Linked DNA regions of Homo sapiens: region 2 is linked to region 1. The links come from fine-mapping of genetic effects on gene expression. A gene starts in region 1. The other region holds a variant in brackets. All regions are shown on one strand. Distances are between the middles of the regions. Region 1 holds the start of METTL16 (methyltransferase 16, RNA N6-adenosine). Region 2 holds the start of LOC284009 (a long non-coding RNA gene).

Region 1 (9,919 bases):
GAAAAAGAAAATGTGGTATCCTTAGTGCAGAGGATCACTTCAGTGGCTCTCTCAGTTATGTAAATGTAAGCTGAGAAAAAATAATTGTTCTGTAACAGGATATCTTTTTTTTTTTTTTTTTTTTTTTGTCATGGACTCTTGCTGTTGCCCAGGCTGGAATGCAGTGGCGTGATCTCAGTTCACTGCAATCTCTGCCTCCTGGGTTCAAGTGATTCTCCTGCCTCAGCCTCCCAAGTAGCTGGGATTACAGCCATCTACCACCCCGCCTGACTAATTTTTTGTATTTTTAATAGAGACGGGGTTTCATCATGTTGGCCAGGCTAGTCTAGAACTCATGACCACAGGTGATCCACCCTCCTCAGCCTCCGAAAGTGCTGGGATTACAGGTGTAAGCCACTGCACCTGCCTGGATATAGCTTTTGTGACAACTATAATGGCTATTAGATCCCTGATATGTAAACTTGGTCCCTAAGAAGGAGGTGGATACATTTACATAAGGAAGCTAGAGTCTTCTAAGCTAGAAGAAATTGATACTCAATGATTACTTTCTGAAATACAAAGTTAGAGAGACCTGTGGCTGTTGACAGGCTGGCTGTGGCCAAAGGACAGTGACAGGGAAGGGCCACAAAGTCCTTGAAATAATTAATTTCAGTCAAGAGGGAGTCCAGTCTGATGCCCTCAAGGATTGATTCCAGTCCAGTAGGCAGCTGATGCTGAAAGCAGCTCTGATAACTTGCTAGGCAACATTTCATAATTAGCAGCATTATTCACTGGATGTGCAGAATCAGTTTCCTGCTACAAAGAGGTAGCAAAGGATGTAACTGGCTAATTGGACATCTGCACTGTCCTTGCTGTGGTATGGAAGTTTGAGAGACTTCTCTGACCAATTACATCCTTGGACATTTCAGGGTAAATTTGGAAAAAGGCAGATGTTGTTAATCTATTCTGTGGAGTCTCCAGATAATTTTCATTTTATATAAAAAAGTTTTCAAGGATATGTATTTATCATTGTACCACAATATTTGGGAATAGGTCATACCAGATACATTGGAAAGAACCTATGTCCATCCACAGGGGAATTAGTTTTTTTTTTGTTGTTGTTTGTTTGTTTGTTTGTTTGTTTGTTTTTGAGATGGAGTCTTACTCTGTTGCCCAGGCTGGAGTGCAATGGCGCGATCTCGGCTCACTGCAACCTCTGCCTCCCGGGTTTAAGCGATTTTCCTGCCTCAGCCTCCCGAGTAGCTGGGATTGCAGGTGCCCGCCACCACGCCCAGCTAATTTTTGTATTTTTAATGGAGACGGGGTTTGACTATGTTGGCCAGGCTGGTCTCAAACTCCTGACCTCAAGTGACCCACCTGCCTTCGCCTCTCAGAGTGCTGGGATTATAGGTCTGGCCAACCCAACCTGGGCACGAATTAGTTTTTTAAAAAGTGGTATATCCAGCTGGGTGCGGTGGCCCAGGCCTATAATCCCAGCCCTCTGGGAGGCCGAGGCGAGTGGATCACGAAGTCAGGAGTTCGAGACCAACCTGGCCAACATGGTGAAACCCTGTCTCTACTAAAAATACAAAAAAATTAGCCAGGCGTGGTGGTGGGCACCTGTAATCCCAGCTACTCGGGAGGCTGAGGCAGAAGAATCGCTTGAACCTAGGAGGTGGAGGTTGCAGTGAGCCGAGATCACGCCACTGCACTCCAGCCTGGGCGACAGAGAGACTCTGTCTCAAAAAAAAAAAAAAAAGTGTTATATGCATTCAATGGAATACTGTGCACCTATCACAAAGAACAATAAAGAGCTATATTGTTGGAAGTGGAAGAATCTCCAAGAGTTATATTTGAGTATATGTGCATGTGTGTGTGTGTATATATATGTAATTACATATATATACAAATATATATTATTATTTGTATAAAAATTATTTGGTTATATATCCTTATGAGATATAGAGGTTTAGTAGTAAGGTTACCCAAATTTGATGGTGCTTGGCTGTGAGTGGTGAGATTTTAGATAATTTTTGTCTTTCTGATATCTTTATGTATTATTTAAATTATTTAAAAATTTTCAGTTATTAAAATGTTTTATCTTTATGGAATACTTAAAAAAAACTGACCAGAGAAGTTATAAGGAACAATATTATTATTATTAGGAACTCACTATATACTAGACATTCTGCTGTTTTATATGCATTATCTGATTTAATTCTCACAACCCCATGAGATTATTATCCTATTTTGTAATATTGAGCAAACTAAGCCTTCAAGTGTTTAAGCAAATTGCCCATACTCACAGGGTTAGTAAATGGTGGGGGCAGGATTAAAGGCCAGGTTTCCCAGCTGCAGTGCTACTAGGGTCTCTCTGGCCCGACCTACAGGTAAACTGGGTTGCTCTTTGGAGCTAACAGAAAGTTACCAATATCTTAAATACAATCACTTCAACCCCACCAGTCCTATCTCCGAGGCCATCTTTTCTTTTACCTTTCCAGCAGCATGCACTAAATAAAATGCCATAACTAGTATCAAAGCCACTACCAACCAAAGATGGAAAACTTTCTGTGGTAATATGTTACATTGGTTGCTGAAATGAACCATGCCTTCCAGTATTGGAAGGGACCCTGGCATAGTCCCCTCCCCTTGAATTGGGGCTAGCCCTTCTACTTGCTTTAACCAAGAATATAGCCAAGGTGCTAGTTCTGCACCTACGCTTTAAGAAGGCCTGGCAGCTTCCACTTTTGCCCTTTTGGGAGCCCCGAGCCAACATGTAAGAAGTATTCTGGCGGGGCACGATGGCTCATGCCTGTAATCTCAGTACTTTGGGAGGCCGAGGCGGGTGGATCATCTGAGGTCAGGAGTTTGAGACCAGCCTGGCCAACAGGATGAAACCCCGTCTCTACTAAAAATACAAAAAATTAGCTGGGCATGGTGGCGGGCGCCTGTAATCTCAGCTACTCAGCTACTTGGGAGGCTGAGGCAAGAAAATCGCTTGAACCCAGGAGGCAGAGGTTGCATGCAGTGAGCCGAGATGGCGCCATTGCACTCCAGCCTGGGCAATAAGAAACTCCATCTCGGGGGAAAAAAAAAATGTCATCCTACTCTGCTAGACAAATTACATGGAAAGGCCACGTGGACAGGGAGAGAACTTGGACTACAGGGAGAGAGACCCAGTTCTTTCAGCGGAACCAGCCCCCACTTGTTGCTATGACCACTGGCAAGACCAGCAGAACGGGTGGGCTAATCCCAGCCCAGATTGCAGAACTGTGAGCAAGTAAAATGGTGGTTGTTTTAAGTCTTACGTTTTGGGGCGGTTTGTTACACAACAGATTATGAAAACACCTCCTCAGCTTTCCTTGGGTGACTACTGGTACTCACTTGTGTATAAGTCTCCATTCCTTAATCCTTACTATCTCCCAATTTTATGGTAATAGTTTGCCAGAAGCGTTCACATTAACGACGAGGACGTAGGCAGGCCCCCCCTTTTTTTTTTTTTTTTGAGACAGAGTCTTGCTCTTTCGCTCAGGCTGGAGTGCAGTGGTGCGATCTTGGCTCACTGCAACCTCCGCTTCCCGGATTCAAGCGATTCTCCTGCCTCAGCCTCCCGAGTAGCTGGGATTACAGGCGCCCGCCACCACGCCCGGCTAATTTTTGTATTTTTAGTAGAGACGGGGTTTCACCATGTTGTCCAGGCTGGTCTTGAACTCCTGACCTCAGGTGATCTGCCCGCCTCAGCCTCCCAAAGTGCTGGGATTACAAGCGTGAGCCGCCGCGTCCGGCCGGATCCTCAGTTCTTTCGCTGTAAACGAGAGTACTCTTCCCCAACCCACAGGCTTATATCTCTTACAATTCAGTGAGTGAGACATCGGCTGAGGACACACCTGTTGCACAAAAAGGGCTCACTGCACGCCATCACACCCAAGTCTCGTACCCTCATCTTCATAACCTGCCCAATCCCAGTGAGTGTGAGAGGTAAGTCTGCAGCAGGGCCCGGAAAACTTGTTTCTTTTTCTTTTAAATAAGTTTTCTCGCGAATTCGAACGCATGTCCTCCTCCTGCCATACCTCAAAGGACTCCGCTCGTCACCACGCCCCCGCGCCTTCTGTTAGGAGCAGCAAACCCCAGGTGTCGCGAGGGTTTCTTCTTTCTTCAAGATCAGCCACAGGTCGCGCGAGAGGGATGTGTCCAATCACGAGGCTAGATGGCTTCACAAGATGGCGGCGCGCTGGGAGCGTATCATCTGCGTTTCTAGGAGCTTCGCTATGCGGCTGCTTTAAGATTCTAGGGTTGTACAGGCCCACGCCAGACACGACGTCTGGCAGGAACCTCGGCCTCAGAGGTGGGTCACTTATATCTCTCACGCAGATTTACTATCATGGGTCACTTAACCCGTGGATCACACGGGTTCCTCATTCTTGAGTTTTGGGCTAGTGAGGTGCCGACTTCGGGGTCTAGGAGGGGAGACCTGATGTGGCTGTGTGTGCGCACGCGGGGGTGTTGAGAGTGGATGAGTGGGAGGAGTTGGCGAATAGAATAGAGACTAGGACTGAAGTAGGAAAGACTCCCCGGTGTTTAGGAGGTTTAGAGAGATCCAAAACTGAGGCGGGAAGACAAACTGAGCTGATAAAATGAGGGCATGGAAAGAACGGCAGTGGCAGGACTAGTGGGAAACGTCGGATTTATGAGAGAAGGCGAAGAGAGAAGATGTAGATTGGTGTGGAAGTGGGAGGGATCTGTGCAGAAAGAATTTGAAGTTCTGAAATTGGAATTTAGACTGTTTTACAGGCTGTGTATCAAGAGAGTGGTAGTTGAAGAGGGTTAATGGTCAAGAGGAACCAAGGAAACAGAAGCATGGAGATGAGAAAGAAAAAAAAAAAAAGGGAAAGCCTCATTCTCAGGGTTCTACTATTAACTGTGGCTTTCTGGACTGACTCAAGTAACCGGGAAGAAAAGTTCCAGTCCATGGGCTGAGCTTTTTTTGAAACTCAGTGAGGGTGCTTTGTGTCGGTGGTCCAGACAGGGAAGAGTTCTATCGTGGTTTCAATCAACAAATACTTGAGTGCCTACTCTCTTAGGCCCTATTTTAGGCGTTGGGATATGCGGTGAACAAGACAGACAAAATATTTACCCTCTTGAAACTTACTGACGGGAGATTTTTTAAAGTAAGTAAAATATATGGAATGCCAGATGGGTAAATTCTGTGTAGAAAATTGAAGCTAGAGCCTGGGTAGCAAAGCCAGACTCCCTTTCTACAAAAAATGAAGTAAATTAACCAGGTGCAGTGCTCTGTACCTGTAGTCCCAGCTGCTTGGGAGGCTCAGGCGGGAGGATTGCTTGATCTCAGGAGTTGGAGGCTGCAGGGAGCTATGATTCCATCATTGCACTCTGGGCAACAGAATGGAAGACCTTGTCTCAACAAGAAGAAAAAAAAAAGAATTGATGCCCAGTTAAACTCTGAAGAATAGGTTATATTTAGCTAAGAACTCATTGCCTATATTGGGAGGTTAGTTAGAAAAGAAGTGGTTGTATTTACTCATTCTGTATCTGTTCTGACCAGAAAAGTTGAATAATGTAGGAAATGAATCGAATCTGCCATGTCTGTAATTTAATTTGTTTCACATATATTCAGAGTATTATGTTGTGTGTGCACTGATGTCAGCTATGTAGTCTGTAGAATTTTCCTTAATGTGTGGCAGAGCCCTAACATGCCACTGTCTCTTGAAGTCACTGTTAGGATATGGTGACTAAAGTCAGCAACAATGTATATTTCAAAATAGCTAGGAGAGGGCTTGAAATGTTACCAATACATAGATATAAAAAATACTCAAAGTGGTGAATACCCCATATACTCTGACTTGATCAGCACACATTCTATGCGTGGAACAAATACCGCATAAATGTCACATGTCCCCCATAAATTGGGAAAATATTTTCCATCAGTTTAAAGAAATTACTCTTAGTTTACTTTTTTTTGTTGCTTGCCAGAATCACAAGAAAGAACATTTTCTTTTTCTTTTTTTTTTTTGAGACAGTTTCACTGTCACCAAGGCTGGAGTGCAGTAGCACGATCTTGGCTCACTGCAACCTCCACCTCCTGGGTTCAAGTGATTCTCCTGCCTCAGCCTCCCGAGTAGCTGGGATTACAGGCACCCACCACCACGCCCAGCTAATTTTTTTTTTTTTTTTGAGACGGAGTGTTGCTCTGTCACCAGGCTGGAGTGCAGTGGCGTGATCTTGGCTCACTGCAACTTCGGCCTCCTGAATTCAAGTGATTCTCCTGCCTCAGCCTCCCAAGTAGCTGGGACTTCAGGCACATGCCACCACACCCAGCTAATTTTTGTATTTTTAGTAGAGATAGGGTTTCACTATGTTGGCCAGGATGGTCTCCATGTTGGCCAGGCTGGTCTCACAAACTCCTGACCTCAGGTGATCCTCCAGTCTTGGCCTCCGAAAGTGTTGGGATTATAGTCGTGAGCGACTGTGCCCGGCCAACACTTTAATTTTGGATATTTTCTTTTTAATAAAGTCTATTATTTGTATTTGTTTATTTTGAGACAGGGTCTCACTGTGTGGCCCAGGCTGGACTGGAACTCCTGGGCTCAAGCTATCCTTGGCATCCCTAGTAGCTAGGAACACAGGCATGCACCACCTTGCCCAGTTGATGTTTTCTTGAGAACTGGGGGCCATCCTAGTTTTATGCTCCCCTCTTTCCTGATGGTCAGTAAAGGGTATGTCAATGCTAGGAAATTAAGACAGGTATATAGTCATTTTTAGTCATAGTGTGAGGGGCAAAATGTAGTAACAGTATGCTGAAAAACTTTCAGGTGACTACTAATCCCCTCAAATTCTGAATTGTTTACTCAAAAAATATTTATTGTATACAGGTTGCTGGGGGTATAGTAAAGACTAGGATGGATATGGTTGCAGGTCTATGTGTGACATATGCAAATTAATTACACACCCAGTAGTAAACTGAAGATCTCTGAGGGAGAAGCAGCACAGGGTGCTTTGAAAGCGTGTAGATGGGCATCTGATTGGATTGTGGGGTCAGAGAAAGGCTGCCTGAGTAAATGATGCCTAGGGTGTGATTTGAGTAGCTAGTGGACCTTCAGAGGTGAAAGGCGATGGTGGGAGGTTGAGGAGAGTCTTACAGGCAGTAAGAATAGGAGATGGTGAGACAGACTACCATGCAGCAGAGAAAATGGAAGAAGACCAGTATGTCTGGAAGGGGAAAGTGGCAACAAATGAAGTTGGAGGGACAGATAAGGCCTGGATTATGCCTGCCTTTTTAATGATTTTAGACTTTTTTAGCTTAATAGCTTTGGGATGCCACTGAAGGGATTTAATAAGGAAATGTTCACATTTGCATGGGGGGAGTGGCTTGTCTGCTGAGTGAAAAGTGGCTGGTAGAGGGCAAGAGTGTTTATGAAGAGATCAGTTTGAGACTCTTAGAGCAACCCAAGAAAGACATGATAATGACCTGGGCCAGAGAGGTGGTGTTGTGAAGGGTGAAAAGTGGGATAAGGTCAAGAAATAATTGGGAGATGGAGTATTCAGGACCTGGTGTGTTGTGAATGGGGGAGGCAGCATGGAGAAGGTGTTGAAGATTTTTGATGTGTTTATCACAAGAAAGATAGCAGTGCATTTGGTGAGATAGGGAAGATGAGAAGGACCAGTTTGGGGTGGGTAGAAGTGATTTAATTTTGCACATATTGTACATGTATTTTTGAGCCCTTCAAGTGAGAAATATGGTAGGCAGTTGGATATGTGATTTGGAAAAGTCTGGAATGAAGACAACAGTTCTTTTCTGAAATTGGTTTAATTTCCAGTGTAGGAAGCTGTCAAAAAACCATCTGAAATAGCATTGACAGATTTATGACTATGTAAAATTATGTCTCTAACAAAGATTGCAAAAGAAAAATATTTATTGCTAGGAGATGTTATAATAGAGGATTTGTCTTTTTTTTTTTTTTTATTGATCATTCTTGGGTGTTTCTCGCAGAGGGGGATTTGGCAGGGTCACAGGACAATAGTGGAGGGAAGGTCAGCAGATAAACAAGTGAACAAAGGTCTCTGGTTTTCCTAGGCAGAGAACCCTGCGGCCTTCCGCAGTGTTTGTGTCCCTGGGTACTTGAGATTAGGGAGTGGTGATGACTCTTAAGGAGCATGCTGCCTTCAAGCATCTGTTTAACAAAGCATATCTTGCACCACCCTTCATCCATTCAACCCTGAGTGGACACAGCACATATTTCAGAGAGCACAGGGTTGGGGGTAAGGTCACAGATCAACAGGATCCCAAGGCAGAAGAATTTTTCTTAGTACAGAACAAAATGAAAAGTCTCCCATGTCTACCTCTTTCTACACAGCCACGGCAACCATCCGATTTCTCAATCTTTTCCCCACCTTTCCCCCTTTTCTATTCCACAAAACCGCCATTGTCATCATGGCCCATTCTCAATGAGCTGTTGGGTACACCACCCAGACGGGGTGGTGGCCGGGCAGAGGGGCTCCTCACTTCCCAGTAGGGGCGGCCGGGCAGAGGCGCCCCTCACCTCCCGGATGGGGCGGCTGGCCGGGCGGGGGGCTGACCCCCCCACCTCCCTCCCGGACAGGGCGGCTGTCCGGGCAGAGGGGCTCCTCACTTCCCAGTAGGGGCGGCCGGGCAGAGGCACCCCTCACCTCCCGGATGGGGCGGCTGGCCGGGCTGGGGGCTGACCCCCCCACCTCCCTCCCGGACGGGGTGGCTGGCTGGGTGGGGGGCTGACCCCCCCACCTCCCTCCTGGATGGGGTGGCTGGCCGGGCAGAGGGGCTCCTCTCTTCCCAGTAGAGGCGGCCGGGCAGAGGCGCCCCTCACCTCCCGGTCGGGGCGGCTGGCCGGGCGGGGGGCTGACCCCCTCACCTCCTTCCCGGACGGGGCGGCTGGCCGGGCAGAGGGGCTCCTCACTTCGCAGTAGGGGCGGCCGGGCAGAGGTGCCCCTCACCTCCTGGACGGGGCGGCTGGCCAGGCGGGGGGCTGACCCCCACCTCCCTCCCGGACGGGGTGGCTGCCGGGTGGAGACGATCCTCACTTCCCAGACGGGGTGGCTGCCGGGCGGAGGGGCTCCTCACTTCTCCGACGGGGCGGTTGCCAGGCAGAGGGTCTCCTCACTTCTCAGACGGGGCGGCCGGGCAGAGATGCTCCTCACATCCCAGACGGGGCGGCAGGGCAGAGGCGCTCCCCACATCTCAGATGATGGGCGGCCGGGCAGAGACGCTCCTCACTTCCTAGATGGGATGGCGGCCGGGCAGAGACGCTCCTCACTTTCCAGACTGGGCAGCCAGGCAGAGAGGCTCCTCACATCCCAGATGATGGGCGGCCAGGCAGAGACGCTCCTCACTTCCCAGACGGGGTGGCGGCTGGGCAGAGGCTGCAATCTCGGCACTTTGCGGGGCCAAGGCAGGCAGCTGGGAGGTGGAGGTTGTAGCGAGCCGCGATTACGCCACTGCACTCCAGCCTGGGCACCATTGAGCACTGAGTGAACGCAACTCCGTCTGCCATCCCGGCACCTTGGGAGGCCGAGGCTGGCGGATCACTCGCGGTTAGGAGCTGGAGACCAGCCCGGCCAACACAGCGAAACCCCGTCTCCACCAAAAAAATACGAAAACCAGTCAGGCGTGGCGGCGTGCGCCTGCAATCGCAGGCACTCGGCAGGCTGAGGCAGGAGAATCAGGCAGGGAGGTTGCAGTGAGCCGAGATGGCAGCAGCACAGTTCAGCTTCGGCTCGGCATCAGAGGGAGACCGTGGCAAGAGGGGGAGAGGGAGAGGGAGAGGGAGACCGTGGGGAGAGGGAGAGGGAGGGGGAGGGGGAGGGAGAGGGAGAGGATTTGTCTTAACTGGGGAGATTAGGGAAGGAAAGATCTTCCTGAAGAAGAGGTGCTTGAACTGTGAGCCCA
Region 2 (9,919 bases), 94 kb after region 1:
CTTGAAACCGGAGGTGGAGGTTGCAGTGAGCCGAGATGGCGCCATTGCACTCCAGTGACAGAGTGAGATTCCATCTCAAAAATAAATAAATGAATAAATAAATTTTCAATACAGTGGTGGCATTGGTTTTGTTTTTTTTTTTTTCTAAAACGGAGTTTCACTCTTGTTGCCCAGGCCCAGACTGGAGTGCAGTGGCACAATCTCGGCTCACTGCAACCTTTGGCTCACTGCAACCTTTGGCTCCTGGGTTCAAGCAATTCTTCTGCCTCAGCCTCCCGAGTAGCTGGGATTATAGGTGCGTGCCCCCATGCCCAGCTAATTTTTGTATTTTTGGTAGAGACGGGGTTTCACCATGTGGGCCAGGATGGTCTTGAACTCCTGACCTCAAGTGATCTGCCTGCTTCGGCCTCCCAGAGTGCTAGGATTACAAGCATGAGCCACCGCGCCCGGCAGGTGCCATTGGTTTTTAAAGTGGAACTTGAGTCCCTCTAGTGGGTAGGGTATAATTCACCTTCCCAGCTTGAGATAGAATGGAAGATGCCAGTCGTGATTTTCTTGGAACCAGCTTTGAAATCCAGTCTTCTCATCAGCGCCGGTGTCACCCTCCCCAGCTAAAAGGCAGTGCTTAGCTCGCCGCCGGCTTGGTCCCGACATCAGCCACGATTCAGGAGTCCTCCTCCTCTGCCCACGTGATCTTAGTGGCCCTGATCCTTCCTCGCATGTCATCTCATGGCTGTGGTTCACCGGCTGCTTTATCTCAAGCCTCAGCCAATATAAACTCAAACTACAAGTTGATGATGTTTCTGCCCTGCAGTTCTTTCCAGCCAAGAACACAGTGCCCCCAGGGTCCTCGAGTTGTCATGAAATAAATAATTGTGCAGGTCTGCTTTGGGTACCACAGGTACACGAAGGACGTTTAGCAGTTGGAGGAGTTACATCTGATAGCCAGAACAAAGGCAGTGCGGTGCGGCTGGAAAGAACGTGGGTTCGGCGTTCAGTCCTAACTGCAGTTACTGTGTGACCTTGAGCTGTGTGACATAGCCTTTCTGTATCTTCGTTTTCCTGGAGATGCCTAAACTATCTTGTGGGGTTCTTATTTTTTTAATTAAAAATTTTTTTTTTCTTAAGAGACAGGGTCTCACCCCGTTTCCTGGGCTAGATTGCGGTGGCGCAATCAGAGCTCCCTGCAGCCTGGAAGTCTTGGGCTCAAATGATCCTCCCTCCTCTGCTTTCAGAGTAGCCGGGACCACAGGCATACACCATTGTGGCTGACTAGTTTTAAACGTTTTTTTAGAGATGGAGGTCTTACTATGTTGCTGGGGCTGATCTCAAACTCCTGGGCTCAAGTGATGCTCCTGCCATGGCCCCCCAAAGTGCTGGGATTATAGGCGTGAATGACTGCACCTTGCAGGGTTGTTTTAAGTGCTGGACATAACACACACAAAACCCTTTGTGTTTTCAGTGCTCTATGATTGGTAGCAGAAGTTGTGGAAATTTTCTCTGAGTTCATTACAATGCATGAGGTTTAATTATTCGGATAACTTTCTTCTCTTTTCTATGCTTCCTTTTTCTTGCAGTCACCACCAAGTAAGCGAAGAAAATTAGAGAAACCGAGAAAACCCATAACATTCGTGGTGCTGGCGTCCGTGATGAAGGAATTATCCCTCAAAGCATCACCTCTGCGCTCGGAGACGGCGGAAGGCATAGTCGTTGTCACGACATGGATTGAAAAAATTCTCACTGATTTGAAGGTACCTGCTTAACCATATTGACGAAGTACTCATAATGATCCTTCTCTTTTTTCTTTTTTCTTTTTTTTTTTATTGAGAGTTTGGAGAGAGGGGAAACGTGATTTCCCACAAAATTCTGTTTTTCCTCCAAACAGGTCCAGCATAAACGAGTTCCCTGTGGAAAAGAGGAAGTCAGCCTTTTCCTAACGGCCATAGAAAACTCCTGGATTCATTTAAGGAGAAAGAAAAGAGAGCGTGTGAGACAGCTGAGAGAAGTTCCCCGAGCTCCTGAGGACGTCATTCAGGCCTTGGAAGAGAAAAAGCCCACCCCCAAAGAGTCTGGCAATAGCCAAGAACTGGCCAGGGGCCCCCAGGAGAGGACCCCCTGTGGGCCTGCTCTGCGGGAAGGCGAGGCTGCCGCTGTGGAGGGCCCGTGCCCGAGCCAGGAGTCCCTGTCCCAGGAGGAAAACCCGGAACCCACGGAGGATGAAAGGAGTGAGGAAAAGGGAGGGGTGGAGGTTTTGGAAAGTTGTCAAGGCTCTAGCAACGGAGCCCAGGACCAAGAGGCTTCTGAGCAGTTCGGCAGCCCAGTGGCTGAAAGGGGGAAACGTCTCCCAGGAGTGGCCGGACAGTACCTGTTTAAGTGTTTGATAAACGTTAAGAAGGAGGTGGACGATGCCTTAGTGGAGATGCACTGGGTTGAGGGCCAGAACAGGGATCTGATGAACCAGCTTTGCACCTACATACGTAACCAAATTTTCAGGCTTGTTGCAGTTAACTAGAAACCTCCTGCACAGTTGGAAACGTGTTGATAGTAACTTGCTTTGGAGTGGCCTGTGGGGTGGCAAGAGGAATCCTACCAGCGGCCCATTAGTAGCACGATGTGGAATTATCTTCGAAAACAAAAACCTATGAATCTGTCCCCCACCTCCCCCCGCCTCCTTCCCGCTTTTTGAGTTACAGGGAGTCGTAGTGTGGTCATTTACAAGGAGGAATTGTGGTCATCAGTAACAACAGAAAGCCCTCAGTAAACTCCCGAGGGATTGCAAGCTGGCTCAAGCTGGCCCCTCAGCTCTGGACTGCCTCTGCAAGGTCAGAAGGGTTGTTTGTGGAGTCTGGGCTGGGCAGCACTGCCTAGAATATCATGCTGTCTCTGTCACCCAAGGGTGTTTCTTGAGGAGGGGTGGCTCTCTCTGCCTCCAGCTGGAGGCCCTGGTACCCTGTTCTAGGTCACTCTTCAAGATGGGGCCTACCTTGCATCAATCCCACAAAGGGAGCTGTATGGTGGGTGGTGGGGAATCTGGGAGAGAAACCTTAGTAATGCTGGGAAGGAGCAGCAGAGTCTGGGGACCACCCGGTAAATGGCACATTCCTGACACCTGGCTGTTTTGATGTTGCTTATTTCAGAAGCAGAATTAGGTAAGCAAAACTCCCCGGTGTGACTGAGGCACACAGAAGGCACCCATACCCCCACCTCCAGCCTGTTGACAGTACCATTTTGTAGCAGTTTTACTACTGTGTGATTTTTGTTTGGACATCTGAAGTAGAGCTTGTTTTGTTTTTAAATAAGAATATTCACAAATTAAAAACCAGCGGTCCTATTTGAATCCTGGGGTTAGCTGAGTGAGCGGCTGATGATAGAAATGAGAAATAGAACAAAATAGTATGTGCCGTAGGTAGCTTAAGAAAGTCTCAGATATTTTGTTGCTGATCAAATACTGTTTTTTTGTGGCTTCACTTGTAATCCCCCCTGTACTTACCTACTCACATTGGAGAGTTCTGAGGCCGGAGTAACTGTGTCCTTGAAACACGTTTCTAATTGGAATGCCAGGGTTCAGTAGCCGTCCCCCCGGAAAGGGGTGACCTTTTGCTGTGCTTGATGTTGCATCAGCAGCCTAGGGTTCTGTTTAGACTAAAATCTTGGCCAGAGCTCCTTGCCATCTGCTAAGAAGACTGGGGCTGAGTAGTTAAGCCAGCCTTCTGAGAGGTGGCTGTTGGTCAGGACGGGAAGCTGGTGACCTTGGCATGTCTTGGCAGCAGCTAGATCAGGCCCTCGGCAGAGACACAGGAAGCGGAACTGCTGTGCCTTAACTTGGCTGTGGAGCTGGAGCTGGAGAAGGCAGCATACTGACCAGTGGCTTTTTGATTGATTGTTTGTTATGAGGTGGAGTTTTACTCTTGTTGTCTAGGCTGGAGTGCCGTGGTGCGATCTTAGCTCACTGCAACCCCCGCCTCCCGGGTTCAAGCGATTCTCCTGCCTCAGCCTCCCAAGTAGCTGGGATTACAGGCACGCGCCACCACGCCTGGCTAATTTTGTGTTTTTGGTAGAGATGGGATTTCACCATGTTGGCCAGGCTAATCTCGAACTCATGATCTCGGGTGATCCGCCCACCTTGGCCTCCCAAAGTGCTGGGATTACAGCCGTGAGCCACTACTCCCAGCCTCTGACCAGTGTTCTTAACCTGGTCCGTGGACCTCCAGAGAGTCCATGTACCTCCTAGAGTTACTTCTAAAAGCTCTGTGAGCATGTGTGTGTGTGTGTGTGTGTGTGTGTATTTTTTTTCCTGGAGAGAGGGTTCCCAGAACCCTCAGACACAGACAAAGGGGTCAATAACCCACTAAGGATTAAGAATCATTATTCTAGTCCAAGCATTCATGTGTCAGGCTGCAAAAAACAATACCCAGGGTCACACAGAGCCAAGACTCAATTCAGGACCGTGGATTCCCCTGGTCTAGAAATTTTCTGCTGTGCCAGCCCACACCACCCCACTGTCCTTACCTCGAGTGAATATTACATTTGAGTCATTTGCTGGGCCCAAACCTAGTTTCCTTGGTATAATTTTAGGATAATTGTTTAAGTGGCAACTATTCATTCAGTAAGTAGTAAGTACTTATTGTTTGCTTGTTTCATTATGAAAGAGTGGCACATGCTCATTAAAGATTTGGAAAAATGAAAGTCAAAACAACAAAATCACCCCGAGTCCCAACCTTCTGTAACATAACCACTCTTGGCATTGGCGTGTTCCTTTCTAGTCTCTCTGTAGACGGGGTGTGTGAGTGTGTGGGTTTAACTTTGGTTGTCCTCATGCTGCGTATTCAGTTTTGTATTCTGGTCCTTTGTTCATTTAACATCTTACAAGTATTTGTCCATGTTGTAACAGTAGTGTATTAGCTTACACTCCTTGCCTGTTCAAAATGTCTTTCAGGCACAGCACTGGCCTTTAAGCCTGTGTCGTAGGGATTTCCAGAGAATGCTCTGTGTATTGAAGCACAGAAGGTGTTTCTGTGTCTCAGTGTGTTTCTGTCCCTAGGTTTAAGGCTTCATGTCATGGAGGAGATTTTATAGATGTCAAGCTAATGACCTTAGAGTTTTAAAAAATCCGTGACCGTGGCCAGGCGCAGTGGCTCACGCCTGTAATCCCAGCACTGTGAGGCTGAGATGGGCGCATCGCATGAGGTCGGGAGTTTGAGACCAGCCTGGCCAACATGGCGAAACCCCGTCTCTACTCAAAATACAAAAATTAGCCGGGCATGATAGCACGTGCCTGTAATCCCAGCTACTCGGGAGGCTGAGGCAGGAGACTCGCTTGAACCTGGGAGGTGGAGGTTGCAGTGAGCCGAGAATGCCACTGCACTACAGCCTGGGCGACAAAGTGGGACTGTCTCAAAAAAAAAAAAAAAAAAAAAAAAAAAGGAACCCATGAGCAGGCCAGCTTTCAGTCTGGAGCCGAGTGCCTTCTGTGCATTTGGATGTTTCCATTTCCTTCCCTGAGAAGATTTTCTTAGGCTACCTAGTGAGAGAACATTGAAAATATTTTTAAAGGACATCTAAGCATTGTTTTGGTCATGCATATGCTTTATAATTGTGTGTTGTTTCATAGCATATACCTCTGGTACAGGTGGGCAAGTTTTTCTTTGAAGAAATGGGTTATTGACTCATATGTCATAACCTTGAGTGTTACTCTCCCGGTGTCC[A/G]GAGGTCACATTCATGTTGCGGGGTTGGTATGAAATTAAATCTTGGTGATGTGACCCTACATTCTCTTCTGGTCCCTAGAATCGGCTTCTGGTCTCCTGATAACTGAAGTGGAGACAGAAGTTGAGCCTGTTGCCCAGGCAAACTAAAGCTGCTTTTGTTCTTCGGAATCTGCTTTGCCTCCGTCAGCCTGCTTCCTTCCCCACACATGCTGGCCGCACTGTCCCCACTCCAGACCTCTGCTGTGTGTCCTGGGCAGGGCCGCGTTTTGGCAGTACCCTTTCAACTCATCCTAAGCTTCGTGTAGATTACTTTAGTATATATTTTTTATAAAACATAAAGCCTTTCCTCTCGATGGAAATCAAAGCTTACCATGTGAGCACTCGAACTTCTAAGTTGTGACAGGAATAACAAAACTGCAAGGAGTGGAAAAGATGGAAAAGCCTGTGGGAAATCCGAGGCCTTTTGAAAGAAGGGAGCTGATGACTTCACGACCAGCTCCTGGAGCCCCTCCTTTCTGCTGAAGCCGCGGCATTTCCCTCCGTGGCCACACGAGGGCACCCTTGGCCCTTTTATCAAAGCGCCTTCACTTCCCCGTGGGAATGGAGACAAGTCTGTCCACGGTGTTTTCTTGAAATACCCAGTTGCTACCCAGATTTGTATTTTTATGTAAACAAATACATTTTCACAGAAATAAAATTTGAAAAATAAAAGTAGAAAGAGAAAAAAACACTAGCCATGGTCTCTTTACCTGGTATAATCCCTTTCGACTTTTTAATGTTTTTTTAATGGTCCCAGCTGACTGTTTTTTCTGTTCTTTCCAGCTGTCCTTCTACTCTAGAATATATCCAGGTTGGGCCAGTCCTTTGGATCCAGTTTTTCTTGATATCTAGTTAATGAAGATACTGGAGGGGAAATGCTGAGTGATCTTCAAACAGTAACTTTCCAAAAGCCAGGAGTAATACCAAGATCTCCAAGAAAGCAGCTGGGTTCAGAAGGCCGGGTGCGGTGGCTCACGCCTGTCATCCCAGCACTTTGGGAGGCAGAGGCAGGCAGATCACAAGGTCAGGAGTTCAAGACCAGCCTGACCAACATGGTGAAACCCTGTTTCTACTAAAAATACAAAAATGAGCTGGGCGTGGTGGTGCATGCCTGTAATCCCAGCTACTCAGGAGGCTGAGGTAGGAGAATCGCTTGAACCCGGGAGGCAGAGGTTGCAGTGAGCCAAGATCGTGCCACTGCACTCCAGCCCAGGCAACAGAGTAAGACTCAGTCTCAAAAAAAAAAAAAAAAAAAAAAAAAAAAAGCAGCTGGGTTCAGTGTTCTGTTGTTGACCCTTGTTTGGGGTTCCTCTGGTTGGCTGGCTACCATGCATGTCGTGTGTTGCTTATATCAGAAGGTGAGGGTTCTGTGTGGTGTAGATGCTGTCGGTTAGCCGGCCTTGCTTCTCACAAGGGGCGTTTCTGGGGAGAACGCTGGGGTCTGTGTGGGCTCAAGGAGGATCCCGTCTCCCCTTATGTTTCTGGTACAGGATCAGATGTGGCCGCCCAGCAGTTGTGCACATAGGAGGAGAAGGGGCCAGGTGGGAAAAGTAAGTCAAGAGCCCTCTGGAAGAAGGAGCATTTCAAAGGTGCAGCAGGTTTATGGCGATAGAGGGGGTCCCCTCAGGAAAGGGTCACGGCCTTTTTAGGGAAGTTGGTGCACAGGAGACTTGGTTTGCTGAATGGGCACTAACCTCGGTAAAACCCAGAAGAGGCTGAATAGAATGAACTGACTCCTGCCTCCTGCGGGCAGCACTGATGTGTCGAACCTCTCTAGTAATCCCGAGTACGCGGCTCTCGGTATGAGTGCCAGCGCAGTATCAGAGGCCCGGACGGCGCCTGCCCCACTGATGATGGGCATCACACGTGCCCCGGCGTTCCTGCTCTGTTCTGTGACATTCACATGCTCTGCTGTGGCTCAGCCAAATGACTAAAACAGCGGTTGGTGTTTTAAATTCCTGGTTGGAGCAGCTAATGCTGCCTGGTGGAGGCTGTGCTTTGTACTCCACGGACTGTGTTGTGACTACAGAACGCCCTTGCCCCTCGAGGTGCCCTTTGAGATGTAGCCTGTCTGCCGGTCTCAATCCAAGCAGAAGCGTGGGTTTCCTTAGGGAAGAGGAAGATTGTGGGTGCTTCCCTCACAGGGGAACTGAAAGGAGAAGGGGTAGAGGAAAAGTACAGTCGGACTTGGCAGAACTGGCTCGCAAATGGTGCTCTGAGAGGGCCAGGCAGGTGTAAACCCAAGACTCTTTTCCACCCACCCTAGGGGAGCAAGAGGCAGGAAAGAGCACAGACTTCGACGTTCAGACCTGGGTTCCCGTCCAGTTCCATTCCTTGCACAGGGTAAGTCCGTTTACTAAGCCTTGTCTTCCTCGTGCCACAGATGAGGAATTGTCGCTTCACATTTAGAGCAGTGCTTAAGTGCAAGAAGGACTGAAATCTCAGCAGAGGGTGGAAACACTTGCTCCTCTTCCGATTCTTTGAATTGTCCATTTCCATTCAGAAAACCTTCTACCAGTAGACTCAGATGAAAAGGCTGAGACCTCACGTGTATGTCTGTAGGTGTAAAGTACCACCGTTGACAAAGAGCAAAACCCATACTTGATGTGATGGAGGGAGGACTGGGGGCCAATATTGATGGTCCACCTTCCACACACACTGTCTCATTTAGTAACCCCGTCAGCCTGTGTGACGTTCCTAGGTGGTGGCTGAAGGAAAGGGAAGCTCAGAGAGTGTCAGTGACTTGCTGTAAGGTTATCCACGGAGCTCAGTCATAGAAATGGGATTCGAACTCAGGTCCAAGAAGCCAAGACTGGGATCTTGTGCCGGAACTCAAAAGTCTATAGCAAGTGCCGCACTTCATGTGGAAATGTACTTCCAGGCTCGTCTGACCCACCTCTAGGGAGGGGGCTGCAGTGATACAACACGGGGAAGGAAAAAAGCATCTTTCACCCTCACAGTTTAGCACTTCAAGGTAATATTATTTTCCAGCCTATGATGAACGAGTGACATGTAGTCAGTGGAATTACTTAGAATTCTTCATTTATGCTACCAAATCTTCACGGAACTTTGTATTTGGCAGTAGTGCAGATAATTAAGTAGTTAGTGAAAGCGCAAAATAAAATATCTAGTGAAAGTACATGTTGGGGCCAGATGCAGTGGCTCACGCCTGTAATCCCAGCACTTTGGGAGGCCGAGGCGGGTGGATCACCTGAGGTCAGGAGTTTGAGACCAGCCTGGCCAACATGGTGAAACCCGTCTCTACTAAAAATACAAAAATTAGCCGGGCGTGGTGGCTCACACCTGTAATCCCAGCTACTCGGGAGGCTGAGGCAGGAGAATCGCTTGAACCCGGGTGGCGGAGGTTGCAGTGAGCCGAGATCGCGCCACTGTGCTCCAGCCTGGGGGACAGAATGAGAAAAAAAAATTATGCTACCAAATCTTCACAGAACTTTGTATTTGGCAGTAGTGCAGGTAATTATGTAGTTAGTGAAAGCGCAAAATAAAATGTCTAGTTAAAGTACATGTTGGACCAGAATCAATAGGAAATAACTGATTATTAGGTGAATTATTCTTTGGCAATACATAATTGTATAATGAAAGAGAGGTTTAATTATTTTTTTAAAATAAGGCAGCTCCAGATATTTCACTTACAGAACAACACAAAACTGATGTGCTTTTTGAGCTTCCTGGAGAAGGTAGCAATTGCCAGAAAAACAGCCAGGCCTCCTCCCCGGGCAGGGTGTGTGAACTAGTATCAGTCTGGGAAGAGGAAAGGCTGCCTGCCATCTGGTGGACCCATTCAGGGAATGTGGCCCCAGAATCTAAAAACCAGAGCCAGGAAGTTCCCAGCTGGGGCACTTGGCTGGCTCGAGGAGCCAGTCAGGCCCCAGGGAAATGGCAGCTTGTGCTGCTGCTGTCCAGAGAGAGAATGAGAATGTGGCCCAGAGGGCACTGCTGAGCAGGCCCCCTCCTGGGACACTGGTGAGCAGGGGCCTGTGCCCAGAGACTGGCCATTTGGAAACTGTGTCTCCTGCTGGGAAAAGGGGAGTCCCTGTCTGGTCTGACACAGGATCCTTACTTCACACATATTTGTCCCAGATTCCTGCCTTCAAGGCCAAATGTGGGCTTGTTTGTTTTGAGACAGAATTTCACTCTTGTTGCCCAGGCTGGAG

What was found. PIP is the estimated chance that this variant, and not a neighbour inherited with it, causes the effect.
Region 2: its variant is fine-mapped to the expression of METTL16 in whole blood (TOPMed, PIP 0.91).

The regions. Positions count from the first base shown.
Region 1 is chr17:2,506,164-2,516,082 of GRCh38, reverse strand. METTL16 (methyltransferase 16, RNA N6-adenosine) reads left to right here and starts at 4,195. Exons shown (of 10, transcript NM_024086.4): 1 at 4,195-4,324. RefSeq lists enhancers at 3,995-4,044, 4,115-4,324, 8,317-9,227, 9,228-9,919.
Region 2 is chr17:2,412,563-2,422,481 of GRCh38, reverse strand. METTL16 (methyltransferase 16, RNA N6-adenosine) reads left to right here. Exons shown (of 10, transcript NM_024086.4): 9 at 1,578-1,751; 10 at 1,886-6,433. The coding sequence ends at 2,512. It overlaps LOC284009 (a long non-coding RNA gene), which reads left to right and starts at 7,046. Exons shown (of 3, transcript NR_028335.1): 1 at 7,046-7,294; 2 at 8,011-8,087. The variant A/G (reference allele first, on the strand shown) is at 5,706.